Homo sapiens: one gene and its partner. The protein of the gene in region 2 interacts with the protein of the main gene of each other region in a pairwise test. Each region holds a gene or a part of one and is shown on either strand. Other genes may lie near its edges. The genes, in order: DEAF1 and RAD23B.

What was found.
Region 1: the proteins of RAD23B (region 2) and DEAF1 interact in a two-hybrid assay, tested with the Homo sapiens proteins (one large-scale study listed by BioGRID and IntAct).

What each region holds. Positions count from the first base shown.
Region 1 is NC_000011.10:671,214-675,041, reverse strand, and holds part of DEAF1 (deformed epidermal autoregulatory factor 1 homolog), read left to right. Parts: intron 1-258; coding exon 259-506; intron 507-3,828. UniProt on the Homo sapiens protein: Transcription factor that binds to sequence with multiple copies of 5'-TTC[CG]G-3' present in its own promoter and that of the HNRPA2B1 gene. Down-regulates transcription of these genes.
Region 2 is NC_000009.12:107,330,378-107,332,911, forward strand, and holds the end of RAD23B (UV excision repair protein RAD23 homolog B), read left to right. Parts: 3' UTR 1-1,812; downstream 1,813-2,534. UniProt on the Homo sapiens protein: Multiubiquitin chain receptor involved in modulation of proteasomal degradation. Binds to polyubiquitin chains.

The DNA of each region.
Region 1 (3,828 bases), on a different chromosome or scaffold from region 2:
CAGCTAATTTTTTGTATTTTTTTTAGCCAATTTTTTGTATTTTTTTGTATTTTTTTAAACACAGTGAAACGCGGGGTTTCACTGTTAGCCAGGATGGTCTCGATCTCCTGACCTCATGATCCGCCTGCCTTGGCCTCCCAAAGTGCTGGGATTACAGGCGTGAGCCACCGCGCCCGGCTGAGAATTTTTAACGGAGGCCATTTTGAAGCTAGGAGATGTATTAATTTCTTGGTTTGTTTTGCTTTCCAAATGCTCTAGTGTTGACATCCCTGCCTGCGCTGGCGGTCCCACCCCCGACTCCCACCAAAGCGGCACCTCCCGCGTTGGTCAATGGGCTGGAGCTGTCAGAGCCGCGGAGCTGGCTGTACCTAGAAGAGATGGTCAACTCCTTGCTCAACACAGCGCAGCAGCTGAAGACGCTGTTTGAGCAAGCCAAGCATGCCAGCACCTACCGAGAAGCTGCCACAAACCAGGCCAAGATCCACGCTGACGCAGAGCGGAAGGAGGTAACCTTGGAACAAATGGGAAGACACGACCTGTGCCGAGTAACCCCAGGCCACCCTGGTGCCTGTGCCCAGCTGCGCAAGCCCCACCTTGGCTCACAAGGCCCCTGCCCCACCTTTCTGGAAAAGGGAGCTGTGGAGAGTCATTTACAAATGAAGCTTTTCCTAAAGAAAAGTGACAGCTATTGTTGTTAAGGTGGTTTTGGTTTTTGTAAATAAGGTTGCTTTGTTTCAGAAAGGGAAACAATTTTGTGCGCATCGGCCGTTGTGAATACTCACCTTTTCTAGGCATTATTCATCCTTTGTCTTCCTGTAGTGAAATGTGCTTATATTTTATGAAGTTTGGAGAACATCATCTATTGAGTCTCTGAGTATCAGCGACTGGCAGGGCGAATGCTGAGCCCCTTCCTGGGAGCCGAGCTCCGTCCATCTGCTGTCACAAAGCCCTCCCAGCTTCTGGCACGTTCTTCAGAAGGCGGCTCCTGTGCATGGTGGGAGGCTCACAGGGCGTAGTGCCCATGTTTTCTGTAGCTTCCTATTACTGCAGCACAAGCAAAAGGTCACTTAGGCCCCTTCGGCCTCTTTTCATATGGAGTCTCTACTTCATATGAACCCTTTACTTAGATTGAAGACTTTGAGGTAATATAAAGGTTCAGGTGGGTGACATGAATAGGGTAGATAGAAATTACTAGAGCCAGAGTAAACTGGAGAGAGGGTGGAGGTTTCTCAGCTACTTCTCATAGCCCAAACCCAGCAGACAGGTACCGTGTGTCACAGGGCACGGGGACGAGAAGGTGAGAGAGGAGGGCGCCTGTCTGCTCAGCACAGATGGGGAGCTCTGAAGGCCACAGGAAAGGACAGGGATGGATTTTGTTGTAGCTGCTTTTTCGGGTACGGTAACGTGGACTTTGGTTTGTAAACAAAAGTCAAATTCATATTTTTCCCACCAAATCTATGTAAGAAACGTTTTCCCCCATTTCTTTTCTACTTTCTATTTTTATTTTTATTTGTGGAACAGGCTGTCACTCTGTCGCCCAGGCTAGAATGCAGTGGCACAATCTCGGCTCACTGCAACCTTTGCCTCCCGGGCTCCAGCGATTCTTGTGCCTCAGCCTCCCAAGTAGCTGGGACTACAGGCACCCACCACCACACCTGGCTAATTTTCTGTATTTTTGGTAGAGACGGGGTTTTACCATGTTGCCCAGGCTGATCTCACACTCCTGAGCTCAGGTGATCCACCCGCCTCAGCCTCTTAAAGTACTGGGATTGCAGATGTGAGCCACCATGCCCAGCTTCTACTTTTTATAGAAGAACTTTTTATTTATGTATTTATTTTATTATCATTATTTTTTTTTCAGCTGCTGCTTTATTTTACTTTATTTTATTTTTTGAGACGGAGTCTCGCTCCATCACCCAGGCTGGAGTGCAGTGGCACGATCTTGGCTAACTGCAACCTCCACTTCCTGGGATCAAGCAATTATCCTGCCTCAGCCTCCCAAGTAGCTGGGACTACAGGCGCCTGCTGCCATGCCTGGCTAATTTTTGTATTTTTAGTACAGACAGGGTTTCACCATGTTGGCCAGGCTGGTCTTAAACTCCTGACCTCAAGTGATCTACCCGCCTGAGCGTCTTAAAGTGCTGGGATTATACGTATTTATTTATTTATCTATTTAAAAAAAATTTTTTTTTTTGAGACGGAGTCTTGCTGTGTCGCTCAGGCTGGAGTGCAATGGCACAATCTCAGCTCACTGCAGCTTCCTCCTCCCGGGTTCAAGTGATTCTCCTGCCTCAGCCTCCGGAATAGCTGGGATTACAGGCATGTGCTACCACACCTGGCTGATTTTTTGTATTTTTAGTAGAGACGGGGTTTCACTATGTTAGCCAGGCTGGTCTTGAACCCCTGACCTCAGGTGATTCACCCACCTCAGTCTCCCAAAGTGCTGGGATTACAGGCATGAGCCACCTTGCCCGGCCTATTTATTTTTTAATTTTTAAATTTTTCTGTCATTCAGTGCACATCAGGTACTTGTTATAGATTCTACTAGACAAGCACATAACGAACAGTGATTATCATCCCAGGCCGTATTCAATGTTAGGGGTTTGTTACGGATTCTACTAGACAAGCACATAATGAACGGTGATTCTCAACCCAGGCCGTATTCAATGTTAGGGGTTTGTTACGGATTCTACTAGACAAGCACATAATGAACGGTGATTCTCAACCCAGGTCGTATTCGATGTTAGGGGTTTGTTACGGATTCTACTAGACAAGCACATAATGAACAGTGATTCTCAACCCAGGTCGTATTCGATGTTAGGGGTTTGTTACGGATTCTACCAGACAAGCACATAACAAACAGTGATTCTCATCCCAGGCCGTATTCTATGTTAGGGGTTTGTGTAGTTTCCCCAGGACCTGTAGTGGTGATTGTCCAGAAGCCTTCCATAGGAGGAATGCATGGTCATTAGGTATGCCACAGCTCCAAACACCAGCAACACCACTCAATGACTATTGAGGTAATGACAGTGACACTGCAGCTCCACATGGCTGGGGAGGTCTCACCATCATGGCAGATGGCAAAGCGGGAGGAAAGGCATGTCTTAATGGTGACAGGCGAGCAGAAGAGCTTTTTAGATTCTTAATTTTTTAAATGACTGATCAATATGTGATTAGTGTTTTTTGTGTTTCTTTTTTTTTTTTTTTTTTTTTTTAAGAGGTAAGGTCTCACTCTGTTGCCTAGGCTCATGGCTCATTGTAGGCTCAAACTCCTGGAAATACGGGTGCATGCCACCACGCTTGCCTAATTTATTTTTTTATTTTTTATTTTTTGTAGAGACTGGGTCTTGCCGTGTTGCCCAAGGTGGTCTCAAACTCCTGGGCTCAAGAGATCCTCCTGCCTCAGCCTCCCAAAGTGCTGAGATTACAGGCGTGAGCCACTGGACCCAGCATTAATTTTCTTTCAAGGAAGAAAAGTGTTTCTACTCCTGAAGACAAAGATAATTTTAAAATACTTTTTCACTGGGCACAGTGGATCACACTTGTAATCTCAGTGCTTTGAGAGGCTGAGGTGGGAGGATCTTTTGAGCCCAGGAGTTTGAGACCAGCTTGGACAACATGGTGAAACCCCGTCTCTACAAAAAAATATAAAAATTAGCTGGGTGTGGTGGTGGGCACCTGTAGTCTCAGCTACTTAGGAGGCTGAGGCAGGAGACTCACTTGAACCCAGGAGGCAGAGGTTGCAGTGAGCTGAGATCGGGCCACTGCACTCCAGTCTGGCGACAGAGCAAGACTCTGTCTCAAAAAACAAAAAGTCCAGGCGCGGTG
Region 2 (2,534 bases):
GGGAAAAAATTGGTAGGTGTCTAATTACTGTTTACTTCATTGTTATATTGCAGTAAAAGTTTTAAAACAACCATTGCATGTTTGCTTTTGATGTATCCCTTTGTGAAATTAGCACTTTTGGGGCCAATGGAGAAATGCAGCATTCACTCTCCCTGTCTTTTCCCCTTCCCTCAGCAGAAACGTGTTTATCAGCAAGTCGTGAGTCAAACTGCTGCCTTTTAAAAAACCCACAAAATGCTGATTCAGTTCAAAATTAATGCAAATGTTTCAAAACTGGGTTTCTGATATTTGTAAATGTGTTTCTTTATTAGATAAGAGTGTATTACCATTAAAGTCATTAGTATAATATTGCTTTCAAAAAGAAATGGTAGACAAAACTATAATCCAGCATCTTTTATTGCATTGGAAAGACTGGCAAAGTCTTTTGGATGGGTTGGGAGATGTGGCTGGAAAGTACTTTGGAAAATATACAATCAAGATATCTCATGGCATATTAAAAGAAAAATCTTAATAGCAGTGTTGGCTTTTATTTGGATTTTTTCATCTCAGTTTTTTCTGTGGAATCTCCTTCATTGGCATTGTTATTTAATCATAAACGGGGCAGATGTCTACTTGTTCAGTTTTTCAAATCTGTTTTCCTGAGTATAAATAAGAGTATTTAAAGAAATAATTTGGATTGCTTTTGTTTTTTGTTTCCTTTTTTTTAACCATCTGATACTAAGAAGATGAATTTGCACAGATTTCTCTGCATAATTTCTCAATATCTTTAGCACAGTATGGTGATGATGACTTTTAAGCATTTACATCACGTACTCATAACCTATTATGAAAATAAATGAAACTGGCTGGGTATGGTGGCTCATGCCTATAATCCCAGCACTTTGGGAGGCCGAGGTGGGCAGATCACTTGAGGCCAGGAGATTGAGACCAGCCTGACCGTCATGGCGAAACCCCGTCTATACTAAAAATACAAAAAATAGCCAGGCATGGTGGCGCACGCCTGTGGTCCCAGCTACTTGGGAGGCTGAGGCATGAGAATTGCTTGAACCCGGGAAGTGAAGGTTGCCGTGAGCTGAGATCACACCACTGCCATAAACATGACAGGCTTTTGGACTTTGTATTACCTGTATGTTTTATAATGGATCATGCATAATTTCTCAGGAGAATAAAATGAGAATTCATATATACGTTCATCTTTCAAGTCAGAGCAATGAGTTGGGAAAAGAGGTGGCATTTCTGATCGGATAATGGAATACTCTCATTTATTTTATGACATTCTCTGTCTACTCAGATCATAGTGAAAACTGGAAACAAAAAAAAAAAACAGCCTCTTCTTGGAAAGTGACAGCAGAAGGTGGCATGGAGCTTGTGTCCTTGGACAACAAATCTGGATATACTAGGATTAATTATCAGAAGACAGCTCAGGCCAAGTTTTGATCGTTCCATACAGTACCTTGTTTATCTGCTTCTTAAAGAATCAGCCGAGACACCATAAAAGAAATAGGCTTTTTGTGCCTTTTGCTGTTAATGTTTAATTTACAAACTGTTTTGGTAAATCTCTTAATGTAAGTAGCTATTTGACTTTGGAATTTTGCATTCGAGGTATACTGTCATTTCTTGAAATCTTTTTCTCGTTTAGTTGCTCTGTGGGAAATGTGAGGAAGCCTAAGTTTGTATTTGTAAATTTCTTATGCCATCCTCTAGTCAAATTTTTTTTCATTGTTTAAAAATACGGAAGTGTTCCAATATAATTTTTTCCTGTACTGGATGGCTAGGATTCTAGAGAATTGATTATAAAATATTTTCAATACATCCAACATTGCACTTCTCATTTTTTAAATGATTCTGTCACGTAGAATCAGAATTGAAAGTTGACAATGCTTCTGTCACTGATACTTCTTTTTACTTCAGTAATTGGTGAGTGTATCATATAGGAGGCCCAGGCACTAGATTGACTTTATTGGGTCTCCTGGTTCTTTTCTCAACACAGAGATGGGATACTTGCTGGGATGTTAAGGTTAGTGAGGTCTTCTAGGGAATGCATAAAATTTCCATTGTTCCATACTTGTCTGAAGCAGCCAGCCAAAGCCTGCTGCAAAATGTTCTACCGAAAGTAAGCAATTGGAGGGAATGAGTGTTCCTGACCCAGTCAGTTCTGGTGGATTCTCCAGCCATGAAGTTCAGTTGGCCTCCCCCATCCATTTTCCCCATTTTTTCCCCCTAAGCCAAGGGCTGGCAAACTACAGCTTCATGAGCCAAATCTGGCATATACCTGTTATGTGGTCCATGAACTAAGAGTGATCTTTACATTTTTAAATGGTTTCAATTGTATATGTTTTTTATCACCTCAAAAGTTTCAACTTACATTTCAGTGTCCTTAAAAGTGTTATTGAAACACAGCCATCCTCATTTGTTTACATATTGTCTATAGCTACTTTTGTGCTACAGAAGTTTGCTGTTGGATAGCTGCAGCAGACTGTGGCCTGCAAAGCCTAAATAATCACTATCTGGCCCTTTACAGCAAAGGTTTGGTA